Regions from separate parts of the Homo sapiens genome. Here region 2 is linked to region 1. Evidence: fine-mapped expression QTL. A gene starts in region 1. The other region holds a variant in brackets. All regions are shown on one strand. Distances are between the middles of the regions. Region 1 holds the start of DLG3 (discs large MAGUK scaffold protein 3). Region 2 overlaps DLG3 (discs large MAGUK scaffold protein 3).

What was found.
Region 2: its variant is fine-mapped to the expression of DLG3 in thyroid (GTEx, PIP 0.95).

Annotation. Positions count from the first base shown.
Region 1 is chrX:70,434,248-70,449,249 of GRCh38, forward strand. DLG3 (discs large MAGUK scaffold protein 3) reads left to right here and starts at 10,588. Exons shown (of 19, transcript NM_021120.4): 1 at 10,588-11,311; 2 at 14,666-14,716. The coding sequence starts at 10,955. It overlaps LOC105373244 (a long non-coding RNA gene), which reads right to left and starts at 1,046. Exons shown (of 3, transcript NR_171576.1): 1 at 432-1,046; 2 at 1. RefSeq lists enhancers at 1-104, 965-1,064, 1,085-1,164, 1,152-1,652, 10,106-10,892 and a silencer at 255-504.
Region 2 is chrX:70,472,473-70,489,036 of GRCh38, forward strand. It overlaps DLG3 (discs large MAGUK scaffold protein 3), which reads left to right. Exons shown (of 19, transcript NM_021120.4): 10 at 6,678-6,792. Among named protein-coding and RNA genes, the nearest start is that of DLG3-AS1, 25 kb to the left of the region's middle. RefSeq lists a silencer at 2,978-3,097 and enhancers at 4,623-5,521, 7,580-8,081. The variant T/G (reference allele first, on the strand shown) is at 7,986.

The DNA.
Region 1 (15,002 bases):
TCTAGTAGAAGAAGGGAGGGGCTAAGCCAAAAATGGGGACAAGAGGGGCTCTGTGGTGACCCCACAGTCTTCCGCCACACCCACATTCGACCTAGTTCGTATCTCCACACGGAGGGAAGTAGAACTAAGGAGTCGGCCAGGTAGGGAGGTCGGGTTCTCGGTTCCTCCTCTCTCGCCAGACTGGGACCTGGGGCAGCACTGGCATCCTCGGGACAAGACCCGCCCCCCACCCTCGGTTGCCGGGCAGCCGCGGGAACTACAATTCCCAGTGAGTCCCCGGCCATTTCCGGTATCTGGCTGGACGCAGGCGAGTTTGAATCCGTGTTCCCGCCCCCTTCTCCCGGGCCCACCCCTTTCCTTTCTGGCCGCCCCGCCCTCTCCGTGCGCATCCCTGCACACTCCGGCTCCGGAGGCCGGCCGCGCCCACGTACCTGACCTGCAGCTGGCGCGGTGGGCGGGGGTGCCAGCATGCGACGCACGGGGAGGCTGGAGGCGCGCGGAGAGCGAACGCCGCAATCCGGTCCTGGTCCTGGTCTTCCTGGGAGTCCACGCCGCTGTGTACCGGGCAGGTCTCTCCTACACTCTGCCTTTTCGAGCAGCATTTCCTTACTTTTCCTGGTTCCCGATCCATCCCCTCTCTTTCAGGCTGGCTACCAGCCTTAGCTCTAGGGCCCCCAGTCTGCCCGGTACTGCCGGGCTGTCACCTCTCAGCACGTACCTCCTCCCCCATCCCTACTTTTCTGTCCCTTCCCAATCGCCCAGTCTCTTCCTCCCCTCACCTCCCAACCTCACCCTGAAGACCTCCAGCAACTCCATCCCTGCAGCCCCAACCTCTCAGCTCTCACACTCTCAGCTGCGGCCCTCTAAACCCAGCGTCTGGCCCCCCAACCCAGCGCCAGCCTCTGACCCCTTTCTCCTAGCCCCTAGCCTTGGGTACGCAGCCTTGAGCCTGCCACCGGAAATCCTCACTCTCTTCCCAGGAGAACTGGACAGCTAAAGCGGTTTAACCTATAGGCCCTGGGCCCTGGGCTGGAGACTGACACTGACAAAAACTTAAGGGCGGAGGACCCGGGGGAGCTGCTCATTGGGGTTCGGATGTAGTTGCTCTTCGTTATTTTTAGCTGCTGACTCACAGCTCCTGGCATCCGGGTTTGGGGCTAGCAGGCTGGGCTAGGGGGCTATTAATAGAGCAGGAGCACAGCCCCGACCCAGTTCAGTTTGGAAACACAGAGAGCAAGAAGCGTCCCCTGCCACTATGCCCTGTGGAGATGTGGACTGAGCAGTGGCTGGGCCAGATGCTGTCTGGATGCTAGTTACCTCACCCTGGTATCTCTACCTTGGAACTCTTGAGGGAAACCCCACGAGGAGACTCCTGGGCACAGCTCTCCCCTAAGCTCGCCATGGCTTGGGGCTCTGCCACAATCAAGCTTCTGTTGTACTAGCCGAGAAGGCAGAGATGCGTCCCAAGTGGAAAGATTGTTTTGGTCATGGCCTTGGCCTGCCTGGACCCACTCCTGGGCCAGAATGCTAGGTTACTAGAAGGAAAAGCTATGGATTTCTGGTCCCCCACAGCCTTCATAAGGATGGAGTGCTTCAGCATGGTCCTAACACAGGGGGCACAGAGCTGGGGATCCCCAAACCAGACACAGAGCTCAGAAGCTGCCAGATTCTGTGCTTATCACACCCCCAACCCCGCCATTCTTTTTATTTCTTTCCATTTTGTTGAGCTCTGTCCCAACTCACAGGGATTTACAGACCTCATGATCTCTCCCTTGTCTGGAGAGAAACCGTATTCATGAAAGCCACTGCTTGTCCCCAATGAGGTATGAATGATCCTTTATATATTGTCATTCCCATTGACCTTTTTATTTTAATGGGCTAACGTAAGAGTTTCCTAATGTATACATTGGGAATCGTGAGGAAATCTTGATGGACTGATCAAAATTATTCCCACGCAAGCTCAATTTTCTAGAATTCCCATTGACTAAGGGTGCACACCCACAACAATGCTCCTCCCCTCCTTGCAAATCAGAAACTTCCACCTTCATCGACCCGAGTCTCCAGCCCCCAGATGAAACCACATTTGGGGCAAGAGTGATCGTTTCACCACGCACAATATGGAGGTCACTCAGTGAAGCTCTATTTTCAAGAATGAGCCCAGCTTATCAGACAGACAGCAGCAGACCGCGCGGTCCCAACCCCGTCTACTTGCTGAAGGAGCCGGAGTGGCGGTGGAAGGGGAGATAAATGGTCTCTCTGCTTGAAAATCCGTTCCTGAAGTCCTCCATCGCCTGGTTGCCTAGCAACCAGAGCTGCTTGCAGCGGTGTGGGGCGCTTTTGGTCCGTAGGGGGCGACTGTCTCCCTGGGGTCTCAGGCTGGAGCCCTAGCAGTTGGGAGGGAGGTTCCCTAGTTAAGTGTCACAGTGTCTCAGTGTGGCTGACCTCCTCCCAGCCTTGTCAACCCAGTCCGGTCTGAGCGGCAGGGAGCCTATGGAATGAGGAGAAGCCCACTATGAGTCTGAAGGGATTTTGCTCACAATCATTAAAAATGAAGAGAGAGAGGGTGGGAGGAAGGGAGGAAGGAACCTGTTAAAGGGGATAGGGCAAAAAAGGGGGTAAGGAAGGGGCCTGAGGAGGGTAGTTTGACCCTCTCCATTCAGTCGAGGCTTATCAATGCTTATTTTTCAATCAGAGCAGTTCAGAGGTTGAAAGGAGTCTAGCAATCTCTATTGACAAACTGTTAAGCATATAAAAGACTAGGCTCCTGGGTTACCAGCCTAGCCTAGATTTGGTCATTAAGGAAGATATTCATTCATTCATATGACCATAATTAACACTAACCCACTATGTACCACGTGGTGTGCTAAGTGTCCTACATTTAACCCTCACAAGAACACTGTGATTATTTCCTTTTCACAGATTACAATACCAAGTCTCAGAGAGGTTAAGTAATGTCCAGACTCACAAAAATAGTGACTGGATTGGGTCTGATTGAGCAATCACTGTGTGCCAAGTCTAGGAGTACAGAAAACAATACATTTCTTTTTTCTGTCTAATGAACGCCCAGTCACCCTTTGGGACAAAACTGAAAATATCATCTGCTTTGTGAAACTTTTCTTAAGTCCCCTTCCCCCCAACAAGCAGAACTGATAACTTGCTTTTCTGTACACCCTCCTGAAATACCACTTTTCACAGGTATGGTAATGATCTGCTTCCATATTTCCATTTCTTTCACTTTGAGCACCTTGGTGGCAGGGCCTGTGTTCATCTCCAATTGGACATCTAACAAACATCCCAAACTCAACATGTTCGTTTCTGAACAGCTGACCTTTTCCCCCAAAAATGACCCCTCCTAAAACTGTCCTCATCTCAGTTGATGGCAATTTCACATTTCCAGTTGTCCTGGCAAAAAATCCTTGGAACCACACCTTGTATCCAATCTGTCAGCAAATCCTGTCAGCTCTCCCTTCCAAATACACCCAGAATCCAACCACTTATCATCTCTGGTGCTACCACACTGGTCCAAGGCACAACCACCTCTCAGCTGGATCACTTCAGCAGCTGCCTGACTAGTCTCACTGCTTCCACCCTCGCCCCTGTGGCCTATTCTCTGCAAAGAAGCTATACCAATCCTGCTAAACCCAAGTCACGTCATGCCAGTTCTCTGCACGAAACCCTCCAATGGCACTCCATCTCTCTGAGAGGAAAGCCAAAATCTTTTCAGTGGTCTACAAGGTCCTACACAATCTAGTCCCTTATTCAATCTCTGATCTCGTCTCCTGGCGTTCTCCCCTCCCTTACTCTGTTAAAGCCACTTGATTCTCCTTGCTGTTCCTTGAGCAAGTCGGATGCACTCCTTACCAGGACCTTTGCACTCCTTACCAGGACCTTTGCACTGGCTTCCCCCTGCATGGCTCACTTCCTCACCTCCCTCAATTCTTTGCTGAAATGCCACGTTCTCAGTGAAGCCTACCCTGACCAACCTATTTAAGATTCCCTCTATTTTAATTTCCAGTTTACAGTAAATACAGGGTACAATAGTCCTCCTTTATCCATGGGGAATATGTTCCAAGACCCCCAGTGGATGCCTGAAACAGCAGATAGTACCAAACCCTATATATACTATATTATTCTGAAGTGATAACCAAGATGGCTACTAAGTGACTTATAGGTGGGTAGTGTATGCAGTGTGGATACACTGGACAAAGGGATGATTCACATCCTGGGCGGGATGGAGCAGGACAGCACAAGATTTCATTACATAACGGCATACTATTTAAAACTTATAAATTGTTTATTTCCGGAACTTTCCATTTAATATTTTCAGACTGCAGTTGACCATGGGTAACTGAAACTATGGCAAGTTAAAACCATGAATAAGAGGGAGAGTACTGTATAAAGGAACGAGATAAATGACACCATGAGGAAAAAGACAAATCCAAAACAATTGACTGGCACTCTTCAAAAACTCGATGTAGTTAATTTTTTAAAAAAGATGGAAGACTTCCAGTTATGGACCCAGTTAGAGTAGACACACTTCTCCCTATTCCTCACACTAAGTACAGCTAAAACTCTGGACATTATATATAAGACAAACATAAGAAGACTATGAAAGAAGAGGAAGGGGGCAGACTAACTAGGAACCCCAGTGACCTGAACTCGAGGTGATGAGTTCCCTGGGTTTTCTCGTTGTATCAAATATTCCAGATCAGGTACTGGAGAAGCCAGCAGCCTGGAAATGCCAATGGGCACAGACAAAAAAAATGCAAACACCAGTAACTGGCCTATTCTCTCTAGCCATAAGACCAGGAAATGGAATTTAGCCAGACAGAAAACTCTTAGACAATAACCACCACTGCAACCACACACCACAGAAAAAAAAAAAAAAAAAAAAAACTGCAGCTGCACCCAAGCCAGCAAAGGCCAAGTAGATAACCCAGATTTTCACTCTGGCCAGGCTCCCCCGTACTCTCTGGGGTAGTGTCAGAGAAGGCTGAGTAGAGAGCCTAAACTTCCATCCCTGAGGGGTAACAAGAACCCCTTCCTGTTGGGTGGTGTCAGTGTCAGAGAAGCCTGGTGGTGAGTCAGGACTTTTACCACAACATATCATTTGATGAGGCCATTAGCCTCCCTCTCCTCCCCTCCCAAAATCTCTCCACCTCCTGACTGTGGTGTTAGTGGAAGCCCACCTGGGGAACAGTAAAAAGGCACTTCTGCCCCTTCCAGCTAGAGAGGCATCAGTAGAGGCATAGTAGGGAGCTGGAATTTTTACCCCTGCACAGTAGAAAGGAGAAGCCTCCACCACACATACCAACCAAGACCAAGGAGGGAAATTGAACTTGAACCTCTACCCGGCAGTAACCAGGCAGTGGCCCTTTCCTCTGATGAAAATCGTGTCAGAAGAAGCCTACCAGAAACAAAAGATGTAAATGAAATCCAGAGTCTCATACTGTAATATCCAAAAATTCCCAGGATGCAATAAAAATCACTCTATATCTAAGCCCAGCACCTATAGTCCCAGTTATTCAGGAGGCTGAGTTGGGAGAATCACTTGAGCCCAGGAGTTCAAGGTCAGCTTGGGCAACATAGTGAGACCCTGTGTCCTTTTTTTTTTTTTTTTTTGAGACGGAGTCTTGCTCTGTCGCCCAGGCTGGAGTCAGTGGCGCAATATTGGCTCACCGCAACCTCCGCCTCCCGGGTTCAAGCGATTCTCCTGCCTCAGCCTGCTGAGTAGCTGGGACTACAGGCACCCGCCACCACGCCCAGGCAATTTTTGTATTTTTAGTAGAGACAGGTTTCACCATATTGACTAGGCTAGTCTCGAACTCCTGACCTTGTGATCCACCCGCCTCGGCCTCCCAAAGTGCTGGGATTACAGGTGTGAGCCACTGCGCCCAGCCGACCCTGTGTCTTAAAAAAAAAAAAAATTCACTCATTATACCAAGAACCAGGAGACCCTCAATTTGAATGAGAAAGAGAAAGATTTCAACTACCTGACAAAGATTCTAAAGTGGCCAACATTAAAAAAAATGCTTCTATGAGCAATCTATGAGCAATTACAAACAAGGTTAAAACGAATGTAAAAAATAGTAAGTCTTGGCAAAGAAATAAGAGATATAATGAAGAATCAAATAAAATTTTAGAACAAACTATAATAACCAAACTAAAAAACTCAGTAGATGAGCTCAAAAGGAGGATGGAGAGGACAGAGGAAAGAATCAGTGAACATAAAGATAGAACATTAGAAATTACCCAATCTGAACAACAATGAGAAAATAATAGACAAAAAATAAATGAACAGAGCTGGGCACAGTGGCTCACGCCTGTAATCCCAGCACTTTGGGAGGCTGAGGTGGGCAGATCACTTGAGCCCAGGAGTTCAAGACCAGCTTGGGCAACATGGCGAAACCCTGTCTCTATTAAAAATACAAAAATTAGCTGGATGTGGTGATGCACACCTGTAGTCCCAGCTACTCAGGGGGCTGAGGTGGGAGGATCACCTGAGCTTGGGAGATCGGGGCTGCAGTAAGCTGTGATTGTGCCACTACATTCTAGCTTGGGTGACAAAATGAAACAGAGTCTCAAAGAAAAAAAAATGAACAGAGCCTCAGGGATGCTTGGGACTATAACGAAGGACTTAACATTCACATAATTGGAGATGTGGAAGAAGAAGAGAAAGAGCATGGGGCTAAAAAAAATTACTCAAGAAATAATGGCTGAAAATTTGGCAAAAGACATAAATGAACAGGTTCAAGAGGTTGAACAAACCCCAAATAGGATAAACTCAAATTCACCCCAAGGCACATCATAATCAAACTTCTGAAAACTGAAGATGGGAAACTTGAAAGCAGCAAGAGAGAAACAACACCTTACCTACATAGGAAAAGGAATTCAAATGTGGCCAGGTACAGTGGCTAACACCTGTAATTCCAATACTTTGGGAGGCCAAGGTGGGAGGATAACCCAAGGCCAGGAGTTTGAGACCAGCCTGGGCAACATAATGAGACCTCGTCTCTACTAAAAATAAAAAAATTAACCAGGAGTGGTGTGCGCCTATAGTCCCACCTACTGAGGAGCCTGCTTGGGAGACTGAGGCAGGAGGATCACTTTGAGGCCAGGAGTTTCAAGGCTGCAGTGAACTATGGTCACACCACTGCACTCCAGCATGCTATATCTGGTGAAAATATCCTTCAGGAATGAGGGGGAAATCAAGACATTCTCAGACAAAGGAAAGCTAAGATAATTTGTTGCCAGCAGACAAAGAATGGCTAAAGGAAGTTATCAAAACTTACAGATGAATAATGGAACCATTTACATGTAATGAAACTTACATGTAAATGGTTCAGAAAAAGGGATAGATAGATAGATAGATAGATAGATAGATAGATAGAGCATTAACTGGGCATGGTGGCACACACCTGTGGTCCCAGCCACTTGTGAGGCTGAGGTGGGAGGATTGCTTGAGCCCGGGAGTTTGAGGTTGCAGTGAGCCATGATCACGCCACTGCACTCTAACCTGAGTGAGTGAGCAAGACCTACTCTTTAAAAAATATAGATAGATGGATAGATACATAGATACATAGACAGAGCAAATATAACAATCAAAACAAGTCAAATTGTCGACTTGATAAGGAAGGCATACAGTGGTGTCCATTGTACTACTCTTCCAATATTTTTGTATGTTTGTAAATTTTCATTTTTAAAACTGTTGGAGAGGATATGTGGAGGATAGATATATGATAAAGCAAGCATAGCAAAATGTTAATGAGAATCCTAGGCAGTGGGTAATTGGATGTTCACTGTAAAATTCTTTGAATTTTTCTGTATGTTTGAAAACTTTCATATTAAACTGTGGGGGCAAAAAACTTGAAAAAAAAATCACAACTTGGTATCCTCCCCTACCATTCCCAATCCATCTTACTGTGCTCTACTTTTTATTTTTTTCCATGGCACTTATCACCATATACACAGCAGGTGTATATGCTGAATAATGTTGTTTTCTTCAACATCATTTTGTTTTAACATTGATGAGGGGGAAAAAAAAACAACTAAAACGATTCCTGGCCAGAGCCACTGTCTGTGTGGAGTTTGCACACTCTCCCCATGTATGTGTGGGTTTTCTCGGGTATTCCAGGGTACTGCGCTTCCTCCCACATCCCAGTGCACGTTAGGTGAATTGGCGTGTCTAAATTGTCCCAGTGTGAGTGAGTGTGGGTGTGTATGTGAGCGCACCCTGTGATGGAATGGCATCCTGTCCAGGATTGGTTCCTGCCCTGTACCCTGAGCTGCTGTGATAGGCTGTGGCCACCCTTGACCCTGAACTGAAATAAGCAGATTGAAAAATGAATGAATGGATGGATGGATGGATGGATGGATGGATACAAAGTACTGTAAAATAAAAATTTGTCAAGTAGTTGATAATCATACAAATGCACAATAAACTATGAGGTAAGAAAGTGCTCATCGAGCTCACCATATTCGTGATTGTTTGCTTTTGAACTGCATGGTGGTAGGGAGGTGCTCCTTACAATTTTCGCTTTGCATACATTTATTCCTTGATTCAACCCACCACCACTTCCACTGCTGTCACTCACTGGTTCACCAAAGGTTAGGTAATTATTTACTTGTTTTCATTAATCTTTCTATATGTATGCATAGCTCATATTTATTTCAATGTTCAATATCAGAAGTGTTTTGGGTCTTTATTTGGAAGCTGGGTGATGTTTTGTGACCAGAAATATGCTGTAGGAACTTAGCTCTTGTTTATATTAATTAGCCTGTGGTAAAATTGGTTTTGTTATACGTTGTTTCACTTAGTCCCAGTTGCCAAGGACCTACCAATGATGTTAAATGAGGACCTACTGTACTACATAATTCACTTATTTATTGTGTTTATTTTTGTCTGTGTCCTCTCACTAGGAGGTAAGCTCCCCAAGGGCAGGGATTTGTTCTGTTTGTTCTGTTTTATTTTGTTTCCTGCTATATCCCCAAATCCTACAACAGTGTCTGGCACACAGCAAGTGTTCCACGCATATTTGTTGAATTAAGAATGAATCTCTGAGGGCCGGGCACAGTGGATCACACCTGCAATCCCAGCACTTTGGGAGGCCAAGGTGGGTGGATCACTTGACGTCGGGAGTTCGAGACCAGCCTGGCCAACGTGATGAAACCCCATCTCTACTAAGAAAATACAAAAATTAGCCGGGCGTGGTGGCAGGAGCCTGTAGTCCTAGCTACTAGGGAGACTGAGAGGCAGGAGAATCGTTTGAACCTGGGAAGCTGAGGTTGCAGTGAGCTGAGATCACGCCACTGCACTCCAGCCTGGGTGACAGAATGAGAATCCATCTCAAAAAAAAAAAAAAAAAAAAAAAAGAACCTCTGTATCCCTAATACCTAGGTCAAGGTCTTGCACAGAGCAGGTGCTCAATGAATATTTGCTGAATTGAACTGAGATGTAAATTCTGCAGGAGAACTTAGAATAGACCTGTCGTACTAGAGTGGTTCACAGCGTGGACTCTGGAGTCAAATAATCAGGATTTGCATCCTGATTCTGTCACTTCCAGCTGTGTTACCTAGCTGTGTTAACATCTTTGAGCCTCAATTTCTCATTGGTAAAATGAAGATAATAATAGCATCAGCTTGGTAGGATTTGGGTTTGCGTGTTATGCACTTAGGACTTTGTAAAGACCCAATAATTGGTAGCTAAAAACAAAACAAGAACTGCAAAAAAGATAGTCTTTCTTGTATGTCATCCTTCCTCCATTCCCCCGACAAGCTGAGCCAGGAGAGGGTAAGGAGATGTCCTTGGACAAGTATTCCTAAGCTCTATTCCAGACCCATAGAAGGGTTTCTCTCTCTTCAAATCCCTTCTTACCTTTTCACCTGTCCTGGACTTTCATCTTGATATCCTGAAGTTCCTTCCCCCATCATAACCATGCAGGGGTGGAGTGGAGGAGATAGGGGTTTGTGGGCCAGGGACAAGGACTTAGAGCTTTCTGTTAATCCCTGTTCTAGGGTTGAGTTCTTTACTGGTGATGGTAGAAGGTCAAGTGTGAGGTCACAGTAATTTCAGGGCCTAGAGACTGAGAGAACAATAGTCTTGTGTAGGAGGCATTGACAGGACAGCGGGCCTCATATGCTGCCTTCTTCTTTGGTCCCCTGTAAGAGAAAGCACCTCCCTCACCCTGCTCCAACGTCCTTTCTGTCCATCCTGCTACCTCGTCTTTACTTCTGGTGGCCCCAGCTCAGAGCAAGCCTGGGGACCCATTGAACATCTCCCTGCAACTCCCTCTTGGAAGTGGGGTGGGGTGGAGTGGGCAGAGGACAGGCTAAAACTGGCGATATAAGGGCACAAGATCGGGTGCCTGAGCTTTCTGGTGGCCCACGTCCTCTGCCCCCGCCCTTAGAGCCAACAGTTCCCTAGAGATTGGGGGAGCTGGGGCTGAGCCTGGGGGCGCCGCTGCCTCTGTTCCTTTAAGTAGCCGCTGTTTAGCATTCCTGCCGCCGCCGCTGCCGCTGCCGCTGCCTGCCTCTGCGCGCTGATTGGCTGGAATCAACTGAGAAGGGAGCCAGGGAGAGATGCTCTTGACTCCACTCAGATCCATCCTGGGGACCAGAGCAGAAGCGGTCCTCACAGCACCCATTCTCTGCTTGAGCTCCCGCTTCTTCTTTGCCGCTGGGCCTCGGCCCAGAAGCCACGACGGGCGACACGGAGCCGCCAGTGCTGGAGGGGGAGCCGTGGGTGCGGGGCAGCGTGGGGGCCGAGGCCCCGGGACGCCCGCCCGGCCCCAGGCCCCGCTCAGCCCGGGCGCCCCCACGGGTGCCCCCCCCTTCTTGGTCCGAGCAGTGTGAGTGTGCCAGGGAGCCCGGCGGCGGCGGCGGCGGTGGTGGCGGCGGTGGCGGCGGCGTGGAATCCGGCGTGGGCTGGGGGGTCCGAGCCGCGGGGGGCAGTGCCATGCACAAGCACCAGCACTGCTGTAAGTGCCCTGAGTGCTATGAGGTGACCCGCCTGGCCGCCCTGCGGCGCCTCGAGCCTCCGGGCTACGGCGACTGGCAAGTCCCCGACCCTTACGGGCCAGGTGGGGGCAACGGCGCCAGCGCGGGTTATGGGGGCTACAGCTCGCAGACCTTGCCCTCGCAGGCGGGGGCCACCCCCACCCCTCGCACCAAGGCCAAGCTCATCCCCACCGGCCGGGATGTGGGGCCGGTGCCTCCTAAGCCAGTCCCGGGCAAGAGCACCCCCAAACTCAACGGCAGCGGCCCCAGCTGGTGGCCAGAGTGCACCTGTACCAACCGGGACTGGTATGAGCAGGTATGGACCAGCGGAGGGGGGAGCGGTGGGGCAACCCAGGAGGGCTGGAGAGTGGGGGCCTAGAGGCCTGGGATGCAGTAGGGGTCGCTGGGGCTCCAAGCCTGTGGACCCCGAGCCCTAGCATTGCAGCTGGGCAAAGAGAGGCGGTGGGAAATGTGTGGTTCCCTGTGTGTGTCTGTTTGGGGGTCTCCATTAGAAGACTGGGAGGAGCCGTGTGTCAGGGGGTAAGGGCATGGCGGAGGGGCACATTTTCCTGTGTGGGGGAATTGGGTTTGTCTCAGTGTGGGGGTTTGGCAATGTCTCTGTGTCTGGCAGGGGGCGGGAGGTTCTGCGGGGGCTGTGTGTGGTGTGTGTCTCCACCGGAGGGGAGGGGAGGGGGCATGGTGCTCTGCGTAGGGGGGACATATGTGTGTGTATGTATGTTGGGGTGTGTGGAGGAAGGCAATGGAGCTGCCGTGAATCCGTGTGGAGGAGCCCATGTGCCCGGCTCGCTGAGCTTCATCCCTTGATGCCATGAGTCCCTCTCCGTCCCAGTCCCTTTGTGTGTGAATGTGCACATGGATGTGTGGAGATGTCACTCTGAATGTGGAGAGGTCTCTGTAGAGGAGGCTGCAGGGATGGCTGTGTTTGTGTGTGTGGCTACATGTATATGTGTGTGAGCATGTGGCTGCAAGAGTGTGCACGCGTGTGCCTGGTGTGTGTGTGTGAGTGTGTGTTTGTATGTGTTGTCTCTGGTGAGAGGCGCTTGACAGGCAAGGGAGGGGAGAGGAAGGAGGCGAGAGACATGTCCCAAGCAAGGCTGAGAGGCTGCTGAGAAGGACGGACTCTTTTGTCCAAGCAGCTCTGTAGTGTGTGTGCCGGGGTGGGGTGGCGGGGGGCGGGGGGAGATTTGAAGGAACTGAAGCAAGCCTCCTCGCTCTAGAGCAGGCATGGTGCCTGGAGCCGGCAAGGGGCAGCTGCCCTGGTGCAGAGACTGGCCCCAGTGGGGCATGTCCCCCTTGGGTACCTCCAGATGTGAGAGGGCTTAGCCCCCCAGCCCTGACTTGGCACAGCTTGGGAGCCCCTGGGTGCTGGGCACAACTCCGGCTTCCACTCCCAGCCTAAACTGCCAGCTTAGAAAATGGAAGGAGCATCTGTGGGAGAAGCAGCAAAATGGAGGCTGGGCTGGCAGAGCCAGGTCCCTGGCACGCAAGGCGGAGGGCCTGTCTGGTTATCCGGCTCTGCAGCTCCTAGGGTGGGGAGAGAGGAAGAGGAGGCTTTGCTGTCGAGGGCAGGTGATGACTTCCCCAAGCTGGTGACCGTTCTGGCTGCCTCTGTCCTCTGGGGATAGGATGTGCTCTCACTCAGAGGCAAAGGTGGGGACTTCCTGGGGAGAAGAGCCCTCAGTTCTGGCCTTCTGTCTGTCCACACTTACTGCTTTCCCACATCCCTTGCCTTGGCCTCTTGCCCTTTCCAGCGAGTCCCTCTCTCTCCTTTGCCCCCTCTCTGTCCTGGAGGCCTTTCTCTCGCAAACACCCTCTTATGCTTGTCCTGCCCGGCTGGGAGACAGGTGGCAATCCCAGGCTGGGCCAGTTGGCCAAGGTTTCTTTGCCAGGGCTGATCCCTGGATGGCTCCTGGCCCTGAGAACAAGGTCCTTGAGTAGGGGTGGGGGCTAGAGCGTGGACCACTGGGAACGGGAAGCCTCTGGGTACCACTGGGGCTGGGCTTGAGGCATGGCTTGTCACATGTGGGCACACATGGTACACCAAATGCACACAAGAGCCACATGGGTGTCCCTTTGCTTATGTGTCTGTTGCATGGTACTTAAGGCAGCTGTGTTGGTTTCGGGTCTCTAAGGAGCCTTCAGTTCTTCTTCCTGGGGTCACAGACCAGGGTAAGGCTGTAGCTGGAGTCCTCCCACCAACTCCCACAGCTGCAGAGCCAGCCCAGAAATGGTGGAGGCATGATGAGCTAGTCCTCTCTCCCTCTCCTCCTCTCTGCTTCTTGAAGCCAAAGCTGTGTGGGGTGGAGGTGGGACGGGGGAAGCACAGCAGGACATGTGGAGGAGCCCCCACCCTGGTTTCCAGCTCCCCACTTCTGAGGAGGAGGCTAGAGGTCAGGGAAGGGACAACATAGCCAGAGAAAGGTGGGGGAGGGGTGCCAGGGTACCTGGGGAGACAGGCAAGAGGGCTTCTCCATTCTTGGAGGTGAAAGTGGGAGCCAGCAGGCAGGTGCTGCTTGTATGTCCAGAATCACATTTTCACTTGACAAATAGATACACACATGTCCTGTCTGGGAGGCCATCTCTGTGGGTTGGCCAAATCACCCCTGTGTTTCTGACCCCTTCCCTTGCCTCTTCTTGCATGGCTACTACATATTGAAAACCATGGACTCTGCTGCCAATCAGCCTGTGGGTCACCAACTTCTCCCTCATGGGGAATCTTGTCTACCCTGCTCCAGTCCCACCCGTGGCTTTGTCTCTGACTCCTGACCAGATCCCACCCTCGCCCTTTCTGCTGGGAAAAACAAAGGGCTCAGAATCAAAAATCCTTTGGTAGAAAATGGATTAGGACTTTGACTCCTTCTGCCTATTTGAGGAATTGGGTTCCTGGAGTCCAAGAAAGAGGTATAGAGTGAAGACTCACGAGGTGCTCCAAAGTGGGGCAACTGTCCTTTTTCCCATGAGCTCTGCTGGGGTACGGGGATGAGTGACCAAAACATCAGTGGCCTTAAGAGCTTACTGTAATCAAAAGAACACCTGGATATCCTATTGCTCTGTCACTAATTCCCAGTGTGCCCTTAGGCACATCCCATGTCTTCTCTGGGCCTCCGTGTCACCTACTGTCACATAAAGGGGATAGGACAAGATGATGTCTGCTGTCCTTCCAGTTCGGACACAGTGGGAGTCTATGATCCCCCAGTCAGGGAGAACTGTGGTTCAGAAGGGGAAGGGTTATCTGTCTAGGCCACTGGGTATCCCCTATGGACACTGGGTGTGGCATGGTTTGCCTGCCATGCTCCATCTCTGCCATCCCCCTTAGGCCAGGCCTGCACCCCTCCTAGTGAACCCTGAGACACTGAAGCACAGCCTCTCGGTGAGTGCACCACTGGCTGGCTCAGTCTCAGACAATTGATCTGGGCTAAATGAGCAGCTTGGTTTGGGCTGATATGGTTGGAAGCAAAGCAGGGATTGGTGGGGTGAGTGAGGAGCGGCCTCTTCCAGGTCAGCCTGTCCTCATCTGTGGCCAAGAGGTGACCTGGGGTGCACTTGGGCTCTTCTACTCTGTGGGAGTAGGGGAGGAGGCAGGTTGACTAAGGGGCAGATGGCTGGAAGGGCAGGGGGCACTAAGGGAACTGCCTGTGTCTCCCCCTAGGTGAATGGCAGTGATGGCATGTTCAAATATGAGGAAATCGTACTTGAGAGGGTGAGTCTGCCAGTGGGGAAAAGCGGAAAGGGAAGGAGAGGGTTGGAGCCAGGATAAGGGAGACCCCTGAATCATGGTTTCAAGACCCATGGGGGGACCTGCATTTAGAGGATGGTGAAACAGCGGCCCTCAGAGGCTGCTTCACTGCATCAATCAATCAACCCACTAACAAATATTAATTGACCTTGCTCACTGAGGCCTGGGGAATTGGGGAGGGGATGGGTTTCCCAAAATGATCAGCAGAGGCTGGGTGTCTGACAAATGTGCCCAGCCTGCCATGGCCCCT
Region 2 (16,564 bases), 39 kb after region 1:
TGAACCTGGGAGGCGGAGCTTGCAGTGAGCCGAGATCACACCACTGCACTCCAGCCTGGGTGACAGAACGAGACTCCTGTCTCAGAAAAGAAAAAGAAAAAAAAAGAATTAGAGAGCTTCCCAGTATTGGACATGTTTGAGCAGAGGCTGAAGGGCTAGCTGGTTTGGATGCTGTAAGAGCAGGGGCTTCTTATACTAGGGGCTGTGGAGAATACACAAACATAGAAAGCATGTGCTTCGTCTGTCAAGAAACTTAAATGTAGATATAAGACACTTCACTTATTCTCTCCACAGTAGCCAAAGTGACACACATATCTGATCATGTCCTTCCGTTCCTTAAAATCATTCAATGGCTTCTTTCCATTGAGAAAGAATTTATCTTAGGATAAAAGCAAATAACCTGTCCGGGCGCAGTGGCTCACACCTGCAATCCCAGCACTTTGGGAGGCCGAGGTGGGCAGATCACCTGAGGTCAAGAGTTCAAGACCAGCTTGGCCAACATGGTGAAACCCTGTCTCTACTAAAAATACAAATATTAGCTGGGAGTGGTGGCAGGCGCCTGTAATCCCAGCTACTCAGGAGGCTGAGGCAGGAGAATCGCTTGAACCTAGGAGGTGGAGGTTGCAGTGAGCTGAGATCATGCCATTGCACTCCAGCCTGGGTGACAAGAGCGAAACTCCGTCTCAAAAAAAAAAAAAAAAAAAAAGCAAATAACCTTACCATAGTTTACAAGGCCTTGTATGATCTGACCCCTGCTTACCTCTTAGTCTGATCTCCTGCCAGTATCCCCTTGCTTTCCTGTGTTCCATACATTTTGTACCCTTACATAATGCTGTTCCTTCTGTCTGGAATGCTTTCTTCACCAGCGCCCTTTCCCTGGACTCAGCTTAAATGTCACTTCCTCAGGGAAACCTTTGTTGAACTCCACCCCCTTCCCACAGGTAGGTTAAGTCACCCTATTAGTCTCTCTCTTAGCATTTTCTTCATCACAGTTATCACAATTGTAATTAAATAATTGTTTGTTTTGTAATTGTAATTTCTAGGGACCATTTTGATTACCATTATATTCTCAGCAGCTAGCACAATGCCTGATACACAGTAGACATTCAGTAATTTTTTTTTATTTTTTTTTATTTTTAGAGACAGCATCTCACTCTGTCACCTAGGCTGGAGTCCAGAGGTGTGATCATAGCTCACTGCAGCCTCAAACTCCTGACCTCAAGTGATCCTTCTACCTCAGCCTCTCGAGTAGCTAGGACTATAGGTGTGCACCACCATGCCCAGTTAATTTTTGAATTTTTTGTAGAATTGGGGTCTCATTATATTGCCCAGGCTGGTCTTGAACTCCTGGTTTCAAGCAATACTTCTACCTCGGCCTCCCAAAGCATTGGGATTACAGGTGTGAGTCACTGTGCCCAAACTTAGAAAATATTTGAATAAATAAATGAATGAATAAAACTTCTTGGAATGAGGTAGGAAAGATGGTGAAGGATGTAAAGGTTGTTCAGTGTCAGGCAGGGGAGAAATGTTTCAGGAGCAGGGAATAACAGGTAGAACTGAACAAGCTGTATTCAAGGGGTCCAGGCAAGCTAGCTCAAAAGAAGACCTGTGTAATTCAGATGTGGGATAGATAGGCTGGCTGTGATGGGAGGATGGTTGTAGCAGTCCTTGAAAGTTTGGCTGACATAGTAAAAGTAAAATTCTTTAGTGCTCATTGAGTCGTTATAGATACTTGGACAGGGGGGCTACAAATTCAAGCTTTAGGAAAGCTTTTCAAATAAGAATCTAATCTGGATTGAGTTTGTAAAGCCTTGGGGCAGAAGACCAGTTAGGGAGGTACAGCAGTGGCCCAGAGAAGAGATAATAAAATAGTCAAGGGAAAATTAAGACACGAAATCAACAGTACGGCAATGACAATTAAAAGTATAAAGAAATAGATTGAGGAAGCAATTAGGAAGAAACATCAGCAAAATTTGAGGAAACACTGGTTGTATGCAGGGAAAAGGGGGTGTCGTTTACAGTAATGGGGGTTTGGCATGAGGAAAAAAAAGGCTTGGTTTTCAAGTTGGGGGCAGATTTAATGTAGTCAAATTAGGTAGATACTTATAGAGGTAGATATAGTGTCATGTAGGTGGAACAGCGTCTTAACTCATGGTTAAACAGGGCCAGGGAAAGAGGGAGAGAAAGACCTGTGGACTAAGGCCTAACCTGGAGAACCAGCAACTCCACTCACCAAGAGGACACCTTTTCTATTATAATGCAGACAACATTTTAGCTCCTCTTTGTCCATTCCAGAATAAAATCTTTACTTTTGCATAACCAAAAGGCTCATTAAACTGTTTTTCTCCAAACAAAAGATCAATTTGTCCTCAAAGGTAAATTCTGCCTCCACTTCAGAAACAGAAAAAGTGCTGGAAGAGTGGAATAGTAGTTTATCCTTAGTCAGAAAGGTTTCAGGATGTTGGGGTTCAATTTGGTAGTGCTAATCAAAAATTTTAATTTGCATATAATTTGACCCTGCAGTTTCACTTCTAGGAATCTATGCAACAGAAATGCTCAAACAAATATACAGTGCAGGCCGGGCATGGTGGCTCATGCCTGTAATCCTAGCACTTTGGGAGGCTGAGGCAGGTGGATTCCTTGAGGTCAGGAGTTCGAGACCAGCCTGGCAACATAGTGAGACCCCCATCTCTACAAAAAATAAAATATAAAAAACAAAAAAAAACCCACAAATACACAATGCAGCATTGATTGTAATATTAAGAATTGTAAACAACTTAAATGTGTATCAATTGAAATATGACTGAATAAATTATGGTCTGTCCATAGTATGGAATCCTATGCAGCTATTAAAATGAAGTCTGTGTACTGACATGGATGATTTTTTGTTTGTTTGTTTGTTTGAGACAGAGTCTTGCTCTGTCACCCAGGCTGGAGTGCAGTGGCGCGATCTCGGCTCACTGCAACCCTCGCCTCCCAGGTTCAAGCGATTCTCCTGCCTCAGCCTCACTAGTAGCTGGGACTACAGGCGTGTGGCCACCACACCTGGCTGATTTTTGTAGAGACGGGGTTTCACCATGTTGGCCACACTGGTCTTGAACTCCTGACCTCAGATGAGTCACCATGCCTGGCCAACATGGATGAGTTTTCATGATGTATCAGAAAATGAAAAAAGCTTGCGTGTGAATTGTGAGTACATGTATATAAGCCATATATGCATGGAAGTAAGTCTGGAAGGACACATACTAAAAATACCAACAGTGGTATCTTCTGGGGAGTGGGATGGAGAAGTGATACAGAATTTTTAAAAAGTGTAAACTCAGCAGCTTTCTTTGCAGGCACATAAGACTGTGGCATCTTTAGGGCTTTCCTTTCCTGAAGGATTTGCAATTGTATTACCAAGTTTTATTTTTGAGAGCTTATCCACTCTCTGGCCCCACCTTTCTTTTCAGAGACACTGCAGGATCCAATTCTGTAAGTTAAGACCAGCAGCTCCAAACTTTATCAGAATCACACTGATGCTTGTTAAAATGCAGATTCCTGGGCCCCTGCTCAGTAGATTCTGATTCTGTGTATCTGGGATGGGGTGCCAAATCCTGATCTTTTAGAGGCACCCCAACTTGTCAGTGACTGGGGCAAAACCCTTCTTCGGTACTGACTTCTGATTGTGCCCCCTCCCACTTGTTTCTCTGTGATTAGCAACTGGGAAAAAGGAAAGAGGGCGATGACTGGATATCTTTGTGGGTCACAAACAGTTGGGTTCATCTGAATGGGAAAAAACAAAGCAGTTTAGTAGACTTGAGATTTTAGTGTTGCTTCTTTGAAGTGGGCCCTCTGGGTTAGAGGCTGGTCAGGTGGGCTTCCTAGGCGGTGACTTTGGCCTAGGAGATGTCCTCCAGCATTGGCTGCGATGGCTGTGTTAGTGACAAATCAGAGGGAAGGAGGGAGCTTGGCGAGTCCTGAAGTCTTAGAATTGAGATGCTTTTTAAGGGAAGCTTTTGTCCTGGGAAAATGATACCTCTAATATTTAAGATGAGGTAGTATCTAAGTCTATTCTAAACAGTTTTTTGTTAGAATGATTTTTCTTTGTTGTAAAAAGTTGTTAATCAGCCGCCTATTGTGGGTTGTTAACATCTCAAAAGGGTGTTTAAAAATAATAAACCCCAATTGCTCCCAACAATTAACCTTGGGAACAAAAGTAAATGTGAATGCTTCTTAACCACCTTTCTAAGCCCTCAGTGAAGCTGGCAGCCATCAGTTAAATAAACCATTAAGTTTATTAGTTTAAGAATAGAAGTGTCAACTTGGACACAGTTTTCTAATTTGCTCCTCATTTACCCAACAATCATTTATTCAAAGGCTGCTCTGCCTAGTAGACTTTAGATAAATCTACAAATAAAAGCCAGAGACTGATGGGCAGCTGGAACTCTAAGGGAATCATCCAAATGGAAAAAAAAGTGAATAAAACACAATTTAATAAACTTGAAATTTTAGCAGCACATGTAAAAACAAAAAGCGTATGCCTTAGAGCAATAGCTTTGTTCTCTTTCTGTAGTCTATTTTAAGTGGGCCCTCTGGCCCAGAATTATCAGCCTTGGATTAGGAGCTTTGAGGAAATGGTGGTTTCGTGGTTGTTTTTTAAAGGATTTTTAAAGAAATGTAGTTACTAAGCAACTGCCATGACCTGCTGCTAAGTTGGAGTTCAGCGGGCAAGTCGATTCCAAAGAAGGGAATATATAAACAAGTTTCAAGAAGGGGAAAACATGGCTTAAAGATAGATTGGGTGTACTTTTTTGTTCACAGTTCAATGCATAGTTCTTTCTCTCTTTGACTTATCTTCCCCTAAGAAAGGGCTGCCTGGTCAGAAATCTTTGTCTCACACGGTTCTGCCCATAGCCGGTGAGCTCAGAGGAGGGCCAGAAAGGAACAAATGAGAAACAATCCCCACCCAGTGTAGAGGGCCAAGCCCTGGGGTGGGGCCAGCACCCAGGCGGTCTCCAGAGGTAGACTGGCCTGCTGTTATGCTCTAGGACAGTCCAGGGCTTAGGTTGGGGCACCTCATTGATATTGATGGCTTGCCGTGTAACCCTCAGAACAGGAACATTGTCCAGCTGTTGTCTCTCTACCCTCCGCCACCCCACCCCCCGCAACGTTTAATGGGTGAGTCAGTGACTTAACTGCTTCCTCCAGGATTTCAGGAACAGGAGTAGGTAATGAGGACAAATCACCATAACACCGGCGTGTGATGAATGAAAGAGCACACGAATTTAACCCGTTGGTTAAACTGATATCACAGTGAACAAAAGAAACTTTGTTGAGAGGAGGTTATTTGCCTCACTCCATTCCTTCCCCTTTAGGCTTTAGCAATTCCCCTTACACCCAGTTGAAGGTCAGTCTGGTTGCTTTGCAGAGGGAAGGGGAGTGTCAGGTGCTGGAACAGGTGTTTTGTTTTCTCCTGTAGAGTCATACGGACTAGGTGGGGATGCTTCTTGCCAGCCCTCTATGGTGCACGAAATTGCTTTTGTGGAATTTTTTCCCCTGGAAGTGTGTTTGTTTTTTAAAGCAGTTTCCCAACCTTCAACCCCTAGTATAAATTTTGACTCGCTTCAAAGTCAGCTTGTCATAGTGAAGTGTGCCTGTTTTCTAGCATTTCCACGGCCTGTGGCCTTAGATATACCCCATTTTATGCGGCAATTATAGGCCTGGAAAATGTGTAATTGTGTGTTTGGTAAGTGTGAATATTGTATTTTAAATGTCCTAGGAGAATGTCACAGCAAAGCAGCCCTATAAAAAGCCTTTTATAATAATTGTACAGCTAGAGTTAATTTTCTTGTATCAGGTTTTCTTAAATTCGGCATAAACCTGTATTACATTTCCAGAGTGATAAGGCTGTTTCCAGCTGTTGTGATGGTCTCAATGGGCTATAAGGTTAGGGATGGACTTATGACCTCACTGACTGGATGATTTTGGAGGTGAGAGGTGTCAGCCGACTTCTCGGTTTGGGAGAATTTATGTTTTAATGTATGCTACTGAAGCCAAAGAGGCTATTGGTTAAAAGGGAAATAACTCAGGAGAGCTTTAATTCTCCTCATATGGTTGTTACGGTTGTGAGGTTTGTTTGTTTTTACCTCTGTACTGGGTTCCAATATCACCCCCCTTCACCCCAGCCAAAAAGTCATCCTGAAAAAATTGTCTTCTTGCCTAACAATGATATAATTGACCTCAGGTCCTTTCCAGCCCCTCCGCTCTGCGTCTCAGGGCCATCTGTTCTCTGCAATCCGCTTTTTGGGAAAGTCTCCTTTCCCATCTGCTCTCCTTGGGCCTTAGTGTCAGCTCTAAAGATTTATAAAGGTTGCACTGGAACCTCTTTCCAGTTGTTATTTTTATAAAGGATCAGTGACATTTTGAGGCAGATAAGAGCTTTGTGCATTTGACCTGCCCAAATGCTACTCCCTTTTCAGGTGCATTCTTTCCTTCTGTTAGTCTGGGGTTGAAGGGAAGTCTGTCTTTCTGTGCTTAGGAGGAGGGACTTTGCTTATCAAAGCAAAGACTGAGTGGGCTGGCTCTGGCTGCTTTTAAGCCAAGGGGCCTTCTGGCTTTTTGGCTGCTGGCATGCAAGCTCAGAGGCGCTCCTTGAGTTCATTCTTTTCCCATCTTTTCCCTTGTTTCCGTGACAGAATACAGTCGCTTTGAATCGAAGATACATGACTTACGAGAACAAATGATGAACAGCAGCATGAGCTCTGGGTCTGGGTCCCTCCGAACAAGTGAAAAGAGGTCCTTGTATGTCAGGTAAGTTGCCCTTCAGAGCACTAGCCCTTGTGCTGGACGAGGAGAGCTCCATGCCAACCCAGCCCTTCTTATTTAACTAGTGGGCTAGGGAGTATGTACTCCCAGTTCTAAAATAACGCTTCTCACTGTATGCTTAGGTTGTGTATTTTATGGTCAGTGTCTCCTCCCTTTTGTGAGCTGGCTTCTTCCTTTTAGCTCATGAATGACTCAGTATGGGAAAATTTCAGTTTGCTCTAATTGTAAAAGACTGTTGGGTGATTGTTGCTAGTCAGCATTCAAATATCAGTCAAATGTTCAAAGTACTTTGCTTGCAATCTGTGCTTTGAGGGGAAACTTGCCACCCCCCCATCCCCTTCCATGTATGCATAATAGACATCAGGATTTGTATCTGAGCATAGCAACTATCGCAGTGTTCTGGTACAGGATCTCTTTTAAGAGACCAAAGAACTGACAGGTTGCTGCATTCTGGATGTTTTATTGTGATTCCATTCCCCCCTCACCACCCGCTGCACTGGTCTGCTGTATCTATGAATCATGGGATGTATAGTGTATGTGCCCTAGGAAGAGGGAGGGGGTGGAGGGAACAGATAGGTAGCATGGAGTATATTGCTGCTGAAAGCTATTCCAAGATATTTCCAAGGTTGAGCTTCTCTGACCCTTGAGGCATAGCTTAATACTTTGTCAGGTCAAAGTACAAATCTCCTGGGGAGTTGGAGTGCCAAGTGAATACTGTGGACTCCTCATAGAATTAGGGATAGCTTCCTTCTTCCTGCTTTGGCTTCTTGGCAAAACTCCAAAATCTGGTGCCAAGTACATTGTATCCTCCAAGGTTAAAGCCCTTAGAGAAAGGTGGTGGGGATTACTCTCCTGAGCCAGAAGTTGCTACAGTATTGTGTTTAATGCTTAGGTGTGGGGTCATATCAAACTCTTGGGCTGAACTTTTTCTAGTGGCCTCTGATACCTGGCTGGGAAGTTGCACTTGCTAGTTGCTTGGCAACGTGACAACTGCTCTGTCCTTGGGGTGTGAGAGGACAATAGTGAAGGGATGTCAACGCTAATTGCAGTTTTTCTCATGGTGCTTGCTTTTCTTTTTCCCCAGTTGGTGGTCCCTGACTCTACCGCAGGGAGTGGAGCTAAAGGAGCCCATCTCTGAGCCTGAAGCCCACTAGAACCCTTCACAATCTTTCCTAATG[T/G]GAACCCTCAACTCCACCCCTTGTGTGTTGAAAGCATGTGCTATGCTTACCTCCCGCTGTGAAGGGAGAATGGTAGGAAGGCGGGACTAGTCACTGGTCATTTTTCCAATTCCCCGGAAAGGAAAGTTTTGTTTTCTGTCACTAAAGCCCTTGCTCCCAGTCTGCAGCCTGGATACTGGGGTGCTGATGGGTGAAATCAGAAATGCACTGTCGACCCCCCAAAATAGGTAATGGTTATATGACTTGGTCAGGATTGTTCCGTTCCGTGCTTCCAGCCCCCGCAGATGTGGCACTCCAGTGTGCGTGGGAAGCTGCTCTTTAGGCAAGACAGTTTCTTTGGAGAGCTTTATTTTTAGATTTCCCCTCTCCGCCTATCCTGTGTTAGAGTTCTCTCTGCCTGGGCAGGGGGAGTGGGACATTGGCTCCCGATATGGAGCACTCTTCCCTGGCTCAGGCAAGGGAATTAAAGGGATACACTTAGCTTAACTCTGGGGCGAGGGTGGAGACCATGACTGTGTCTAGTGAATCAGTTTATATAATCTGCCCGTAACCTTCTCTAGATAAATTATCTGTATCCTCTGAGGAAAGTAGATGTGGTTAGGAAAATAGTAACCATTTGTGATCACTAGATTTAATCAGGGGCACTTAATGTCTTATGGCTAAAGCATTGAGCTGAGGCCCTTTGCTAAGCTAACCCCTTTATCAGAACCTGGCTTACTCTCTTCCCTTTTGTTCCTGATTTTGGCCCTTCACTCTACACTTGGTTCCTTTTCTTCAGCATGTAAACATATTTAAGCTTCTTCCATTCTTAAAAAGAAGAAAATATCCCTTGATACCAATAGTCCCTTAAACTATTGTCTTGTATCCCTTTGCTTACTGCATTTGCCAAATTATTGGCCAGAAAACACTAGCTCCTCAAGATATTACTAAGTATTGTGTGAAAAATCAGTGGTTTAGTAAGTTGGGCAAATGCAGGCTTAAACAGAGGAAAATGGGGCTCTTTCCTGTGATTAATCTCCAGGAAGGACTGTACTAGGCAGTGTTTCCCCAAAAGATAGAGCGTGGGAGCCTTATTTGAGAAACCTATGTCAACATCCAGGTTGGGAAATGTTGGAGTACTTGCTGCTGCTTCAAATCACTTCTCTTTCACTAGCCCGAAAGGAAGCGTGCATCTGCTTTTCAGTGTGGTAGTGTGGCTCTGAACAGCTCTGGAAAGCTCCAGGGGAGCAGAAACCTGACTCTCTGTCAGGGATCAGTGGGTGACTTCTTAGTCTTCAAATTTAGTGACTGGTTCACTGGTTCTCTGACATTGTTCTGACCTCTTCACCACATTTGTTTCCATGAATTACCTGCTTTCTTCTTTAAAGGCTCTCTTTCTACCCTGCTTACCATTCCTTAATACCTTTCATTAGCTCTGCCCCCCTAAATGGCAATGTCATTTATTTTCACAGCTTCAAATCCTGCCGTATAAATGACATTCCTGATCTCTTTACTGAACTACAGACCTGCATATCTACTACTTGCTGGACATGTGCATAAATAAAACTGCCCTCTCAGCGCCTCAAACAAGCGGCATGTACTTTCCTTATCTAAGTTAATTGCCTCACCCTATCATGTGGAAAAGGGATTAGATTTGTTCTGTCACCCAAGGCAGATCTCTGCTCAACATAAGGAAGGAAGAGCTAATGATTAAAACTGTCTGAAAATGGAATGGACTGCTTCCGGATATAGTAAATTCGATCTTTAGTCACTCAAGGTGTTACAGAAGAGGCTGGGCAACCATTTGCCTGGGTATTGCAGAGGGGGTTGAAACTAAAGCAATAATCTGAACATGATCTGCTCAAAAGCTTTCACTAGTTCCTCAGTGTCTTCAAGATAAAGGGGAACAAACATTTAGGGAACACATTGTTCATCAAGACCTTTGTTATTCTCTTTAAATGGCTTTTAATATCCCTTTAATAATCCTACAGAGTAGATATTATGATTCCCATTTTGCAGATGAGAAAACTGAGACTCCAGTTAGATAGCTAAGAAGTTCAAAAACTGGAACTTGAACTTGGTTGCTCTGACTATAAAGTGTGGTTCTTTCAGTGTTTCCCCAACTTCCTCATAGGAATCAGCTGGAATGCTAGTAAAAATACAGATTCCCAGGCTCCTTTTCTAGTGCTTTGGATTCATCAGGTTTGGGAAAATACATGTGTGGTGTTTTTTTTTTTTTTTTTTTTTTTGACGGAGTCTCGCTCTGTCGCCCAGGCTGGAGTGGAGTGCAGTGGCGCGATATAGGCTCACTACAAGCTCCGCCTCCTGGGTTCACGCCATTCTGCCTCAGCCTCCCGAGTAGCTGGGACTACAGGCGCCTGCCACCACACCCGGCTGATTTTTTGTATTTTTAGTAGAGACAGGGTTTCATCGTGTTAGCCAGGATGGTCTTGATCTCCTGACCTCGTGATCCGCCCACCTCAGCCTCCCAAAGTGCTAGGATTACAGGCATGAGTCACCGCGCCCTGCCCAGGAAAATATATGTTTTTAACAAGCAATCAAGGCTGGGTGTGGCAGCTCACACCAGTAATCCCAGCACTTTGGGAGGCCAAGATAGGAGGATTGCTTGAGCCCAGGAGTTCGAGACCAGTCTGCACAACATAGTGAGCCCCACTCTTAAAAAGTAAAAAGTTTTTAATTAGCCAGGTGTGGTGGCATGTGTCTGTAGTCCCAGCTACTCAGGGGGCTAAGGCAGGAGGATCACTTGAGCCCAGGAGGTTGAGACTTCAGTAAGCTATGATCATGACACTGTATTCCGTCCTGGGTAACAGAGCAAGACCTTGTCTCTATAAAAAATTATAAAAAATAAACATCACACTTACTTTAGCTCCTACTATGTAGAAAGCAGTAAAACACAAGGCTAAGAATTTGGGCACAGTTGCAGGGTATATTCAAGGAAGCAGCGGGTATGGTCCCTGCCCTCTGGCAGTTCGCCATCTACCCAGAAAAGATTTAAGCGGCAGGTGGTTAAAGTGAGGGAACCCTTTTTCAGTTTGGGTGTCACCTCTGATTATTTTGCTGTCGCTTTCCCTATGACATGATTATTTTGCTTTCCTTCCCCTCCCCTGAGTATCTATCTCCCTTTGGTGTACATGTGTTTGCAAAGCTATTTTGAAGTAAATAACACTCTCTTAGAGCTGCAACAGAGGCTCTAACAGGTGAAACCCTAGGGAGCTGCAGCTGTACTAACCACAGGGGACGTGGGGTTTGTAGAGCAGGGAGCAGGAGGAAGAAGGAACGAGAGCAGTATTTGGAGAATGAAATTTGATTTTAAAGTCATCAGTGACTTATTTGGAAGGACCTTCCTCACACTTCACTATGCTAGAATTATCTCTTAAGTAGATGACCGGGATAAGCACAGCACCTCAGTCTGCCCAGCCTAGGGCTTTTGCTCTGCTGGAGGATTTGCCTTGCCCACTGGAAGAGTCCACAGAAATAAACCTCTCTTGAACTTCTTGCTTAGGGTTGGGATGGGTAGGTGTTTAACTCAGACCATTCTGATGTGAAGGCAGTACAAAGACACTGAGTAAGTTAGAGTTCCAGGGATGACCTTGTTCTATACTTGTATTTAATTTAATTTAATTTAATTTAATTTATTGAATGAGTAAAGCAAAGACCCTTGTGCTCCAAAGGTTGCCAAGAGGCTCAAGAGTACAGTTGTAGAAATAGCTTTTGAAAGTCCGTTCGGGCTAGCCTGGCTGCATTCTTTGCAGCCATAGGATGGCATTCAGGTAGTTTGGGAGTCCTGGCCTCCTGACTGGCCATCTGCCATCTCAGTCGTCTTAGGAAGGAAATCATGTTAGAGCATCTGTAGTCTTGATTCAAGAAACAATGTCAGACATATTGGCTTGTTCATTAAAGAAGGCTGGAGAATGCTCATTCCTGTCAACAAGCAGACATTAATTGTGCAACTACTCTGCTTTGCCCAGGGTGGTGCTTGGTGGAGCCTGACTTGGTCTTGCTTGTTAATGAGTTTCAATAGTGTATTAAGATGCCAATGGGGAAATATTGGCAGGCTTCACTAGCTGATAGAATTTGGGGGTGGGGATAATATGTATTTTAAAAAGCAACAATAATGTATGTAAGTGTTCAGGGCTACCAGAGGGTGGGGCAGAGCTTCCTGCATCAGTGATTTCTAGAACTACCTATTCCCAAACACTAGTCCTGGGCTTGCACTCATAATCCCTCAGCTCATCCTATCATCTGCAAGTGCTGTGAGCCCCAAACAGTCGCTCATTGCGGGCTAATTGGTCCTTGAATGCCTCTCCAACATCATAATTGCCATAAGGCCTGACACTTTGAGACAGACAAAGGAGGAAGGTGCTCTTAACCTGCTCTCCATGCACCTTTCTTCAAGATACACCAGGGAGGCCCGATCACTCCTTTTGTGTTGACCCACACTGTGCCTGTCTGAGTGCTCGGGTTTGTGCTGTTAGGCTGCTCTTCAGAGGCTGCTGGAAATTTAATTCTTACTAAGGTCAAGGGCTGATGAGTGACTGTTGCTTTATAACTTTCTGTGCATGCTTTATACAGACTGGGCAAGGGATGGGCTGCTTAGTTGTCAAATAATGTGTGCCCTTTATCCAGTACTTTCTGGCCAAAGGAATAAAGTGATATCTTAGGCCCCAGTTACTATGGGAGGGAACACTCTCAGGGTTAGAAACTAGGGAGTAACTGGGAGGGTCTTCTGTGGACACTCCATCCCCTGTAGCTAGGTCTCACCCACCATTCACAAGGATTCAGAATCCCACATGAAGCATAAGACATGGTCTCAGTTTTCAAAGGGCTTCCACTTTGGCGGTGTAATATGAAACATTAAAAAAACCTTGCAAGAATTAAATAGCAATAAGTAGAAAATATAAAGAAAGGTTGCTGCCAAATGTGGTAGCAAATACAGTATGGATTTAGAAGAATGAAATTTGGAGTGGGCAGGATCACAAAGCTGGGAGAGACTTAGGCTGGGCCTCAGAGGAGTTGCTGAGCTGGGTGAGGGGACTGACGGAGCATCTCAGGCTATAGACAGATGGCTCGAGCCACAGGTAGAGAGGTGGGCACAATACTAGGTTATTTTAGCAGAAGCAACCCCTTGCCTTTGAGGCTATAGCGCTAAAATGCTCATTTGCTTTGCATCGAGAAACCTGCTTGACCAGTTTCCTTCTTAGTTACCATTTGCTTTGCGTTCCGGTTCATTAAGACATCACGGTGGCTGTGCCAAGTGCTTATAATTTCTCTGGATCTTTCCAACCCAAATCTCACAATTTAGGATCTCAACTGCAAGGACTTTTGCCTGATAATCTGTTTACTTTGAGCTGGTTATATTCTTGCTTTTCCATCCAGCAGAGAGGACCCAGCTGAAAGGAAGACTGGACAAAGTCCTCTAGAGCACGTACATTATCCCTGTGGGTGGGTGCATGCATCCCTTCGAGGATATTTTTAAAGGTCACCTCTTAAACAACATTGTCTTTCAAGACCTTTGGGAACACTTTCTCCTTAGGGAGACAAGCAGCAGCCTTGAGAGCTAGAGTGCTGAAGATGAGCTCAAGAACTCAAACCTGCACATCCCCTGGAAGTTGCATCTGCTCTTCATGGTGGTATGACAGCTCTGGAAAGCTGTTTTGTAGCCTACCATCACTTTGTTTTTACATGTCACATTTTCCCTGGGCTACACTCTTTCCCTTGCTCTTAAAGAATGTAATATTTTTCTGGCCTGGCGTTGATGTTTGAAAAGTTCCAGGAATACCCAGGCTCTGGCTCTCCCTGGCTTCGTAGAGATATGTGGCCATAACTAAGAAGTAACATATTCAGGGGCAGATCATCTTTCTTGTACATCAAGCACTGTGACTTCAGGCTGGGGATGGTAATATATTTCCATGAATTTTATTCTCTCATGGCACAGTGTTTTCCTCTGATGTGACCAGTCCCTAACTTGGAGGCCTCAATGAAATTATTTTTATCTTAAGTACAGAAGGAATATGAGTTTTTGAGACTTCCTTCTACTCTCCCAACACATTATCTTGTCAGATAAGCTGAAACACACACAGATATGCATGCATGTGCGCATGTGCACACACACAAGCACACACATAATGAGACCAGGGTGGCAGTTGGTTAATTGCGGCCTTTCTTTAGGTATTAAGAGACAAATACCTTTTGCTTTTTTTTTTTTTTTTTTTCATGCTCACTCTAATTTTGAGTCAGGTTGAAATGGTTGGTTGCTATGTCATGTGGGCCTTGCATGTGTAGGACTTCCGTCCTGGGACAGTGGTTCAGCCTGATTTGAAAGGGGAGTATCTGCCTTGACTTTCTCTAGTGCCTGCCCTAAGGATAAAAGGAGGAAGAGGAGAATATATCAGTGTTGTGGAAAAAGGTATTCCTTCTTCCTCTCATCAAACCTACCATGAGCCATTTATTTGTGAGAGGTGCCAGTCCCTGTCACTTCATTAGGATTCCAGGGTGTTCCTAAGACAGACTGTCACTGCTAGATGGCCACAGTTTAGCTGCTTCTTAAAGATCTTAGGAAAGCAGTCAATATTTTTAAAAAAATTATTAAGGTCTAATTTACATACTTTTTTTGGTTACACGAAATATATCTCATGGGAGAAGTTGTTTGACTTTAGTACGCTGGCCTACTCTCTTTTACTGGTTTTATTTCCACATGAAAGTTTAGCCGGATAATGGGATAAGAAAGCTGAGGTAATGAAGTTGGTCCCATAAAGCCTACTAAATGAATGTCAAACTCCTTAGCTGGACAGTGCAGGCTGTCCACAGTCAGGCCCCAACCTGCCATTCTCTGAGGCCCAGCCAGACTTGGATGCACGGCTGATCCCTGAAAATAACCCTGTGCTTCTTGCCTCCAGACCTTTGCTTACACTGTTCTCTTTAGCTGGAAGGACCTCTCCCCAGCTCTACCTTTTGAAATCCTAAATCTTCATTGAGAACCAATTCAAAAAGCAGTATCTCCTTGTAGCTTCCCCAAACTAGATGTGATCTGTACTCCCTGTGAATCCTTCTAGGCCTTGGTTTGTCCTCCTTTTGGGCTTCTTGCTACAACATCCTTAGTATACTACACCCTCTGTCACCTAGTAAGCTCCACAAGACAATAAACTTTGTTCTTGTATCTCCCATGTATCTAACACATACTCCGTATAAAGAAGACTAAGTAGTTTTTCTTTGAGACAGAGTTTTGCTCTTGTCGCCCAGGCTGGAGTGCAATGGCGCGATCTCGGTTTACCGCAACCTCTGCCTCCTGGGTTCAAGCGATTCTCCTGCCTCAGCCTCCCGAGTAGCTGGGATTACAGGCATGCACCACCATACCCAGCTAATTTGTATTTTTTAGTAGAGACAGGGTTTCTCCATGTTGATCAGGCTGGTCTCGAACTCCCAACCTCAGGTGATCCGCCCGCCTCAGCCTCCCAAAGTGCTAAGATTACAGGTGTGAACCACCGCACCCAACCAGACTAAGTATTTAAATAGTGGAAGAATGGTATTTTTCCACATGTAGCTGAGTGAAGAATTAGCTTTTTTTTCTTTTTCTGAGATGGAGTCTCGCTCTGTCACCAGGCTGGAGTGCAGTGGTGTGATCTCGGCTCACTGCACCCTCTGCCTCCTGGGTTCAAGCGATTCTCCTGCCTCAGCCTCCCGAGTAACTGGGACTACAGGCATGCACCACCACGCCCAGCTAATTTTTGTATTTGTAACAGAGATGGGGTTTCACCATGTTGACCAGGATGGTCTCCATCTCCTGACCTTGTGATCCGCCCGCCTCAGTCTCCCAAAGTGCTGGGATTACAGATGTGAGCCACTGCACCCGGCCGATAATTAGCTTTTTTTGAAAAAGCACATGTGACTGTGACTTAGGCCTTATGAAATTTTCTGAGATAGAAGAGCCCTGGTCTGAGAGTCACCCAGTGTGCAGTTCTAGATGAGGCTGTGTGCATATCTGGGCCTGGCTTTCATTGTCTTTGAGGAAATTTTCTAGCTTAGTCAAACAAAATTTAAGCAGGAAAAAGAGGCAAAGTAGATTTAGAGAAAATCCACATCATGGGTTTGGAAAACAAATAAAAGTTATGACAAAGGAAGGGATTGTTGAGGGAATTGGGAATGATTAGCCTGGTAGAGAAGATCTAGGAAAGACTCAGACTCATTAAATACTAGAGCTGGAAAGAAACTTAGAGAGTATCTAAGGGATTTCCTTTATCAGATAGAAAGTTGGACAAAATGACCTCTGAGGCTTTAGCGGTCTGCAAAATTCTTTTTCTATTTGCAGTTCTGATTGATAGAAAAGGAAATTCTTGTTCAATTTTTTTGCATTCTCAACTGTGAATAATAGTCTAGTTCAGAATCTCAAACCTCAGATACTACATTTCTATGTCTTTTACAAAACCATAGCTTAAAAAAGCATTGTCCATCCTGTTCATATTTCTTGTCCATTCAGTATTCATAAATTCATCAAACAAAATCCAGATAGACTTGGGTACCATTTTTTATTGGGAAATTAGAGTTAGACAACTTCCTTTTTTGCCTTGTTTGCCAGGGAACTT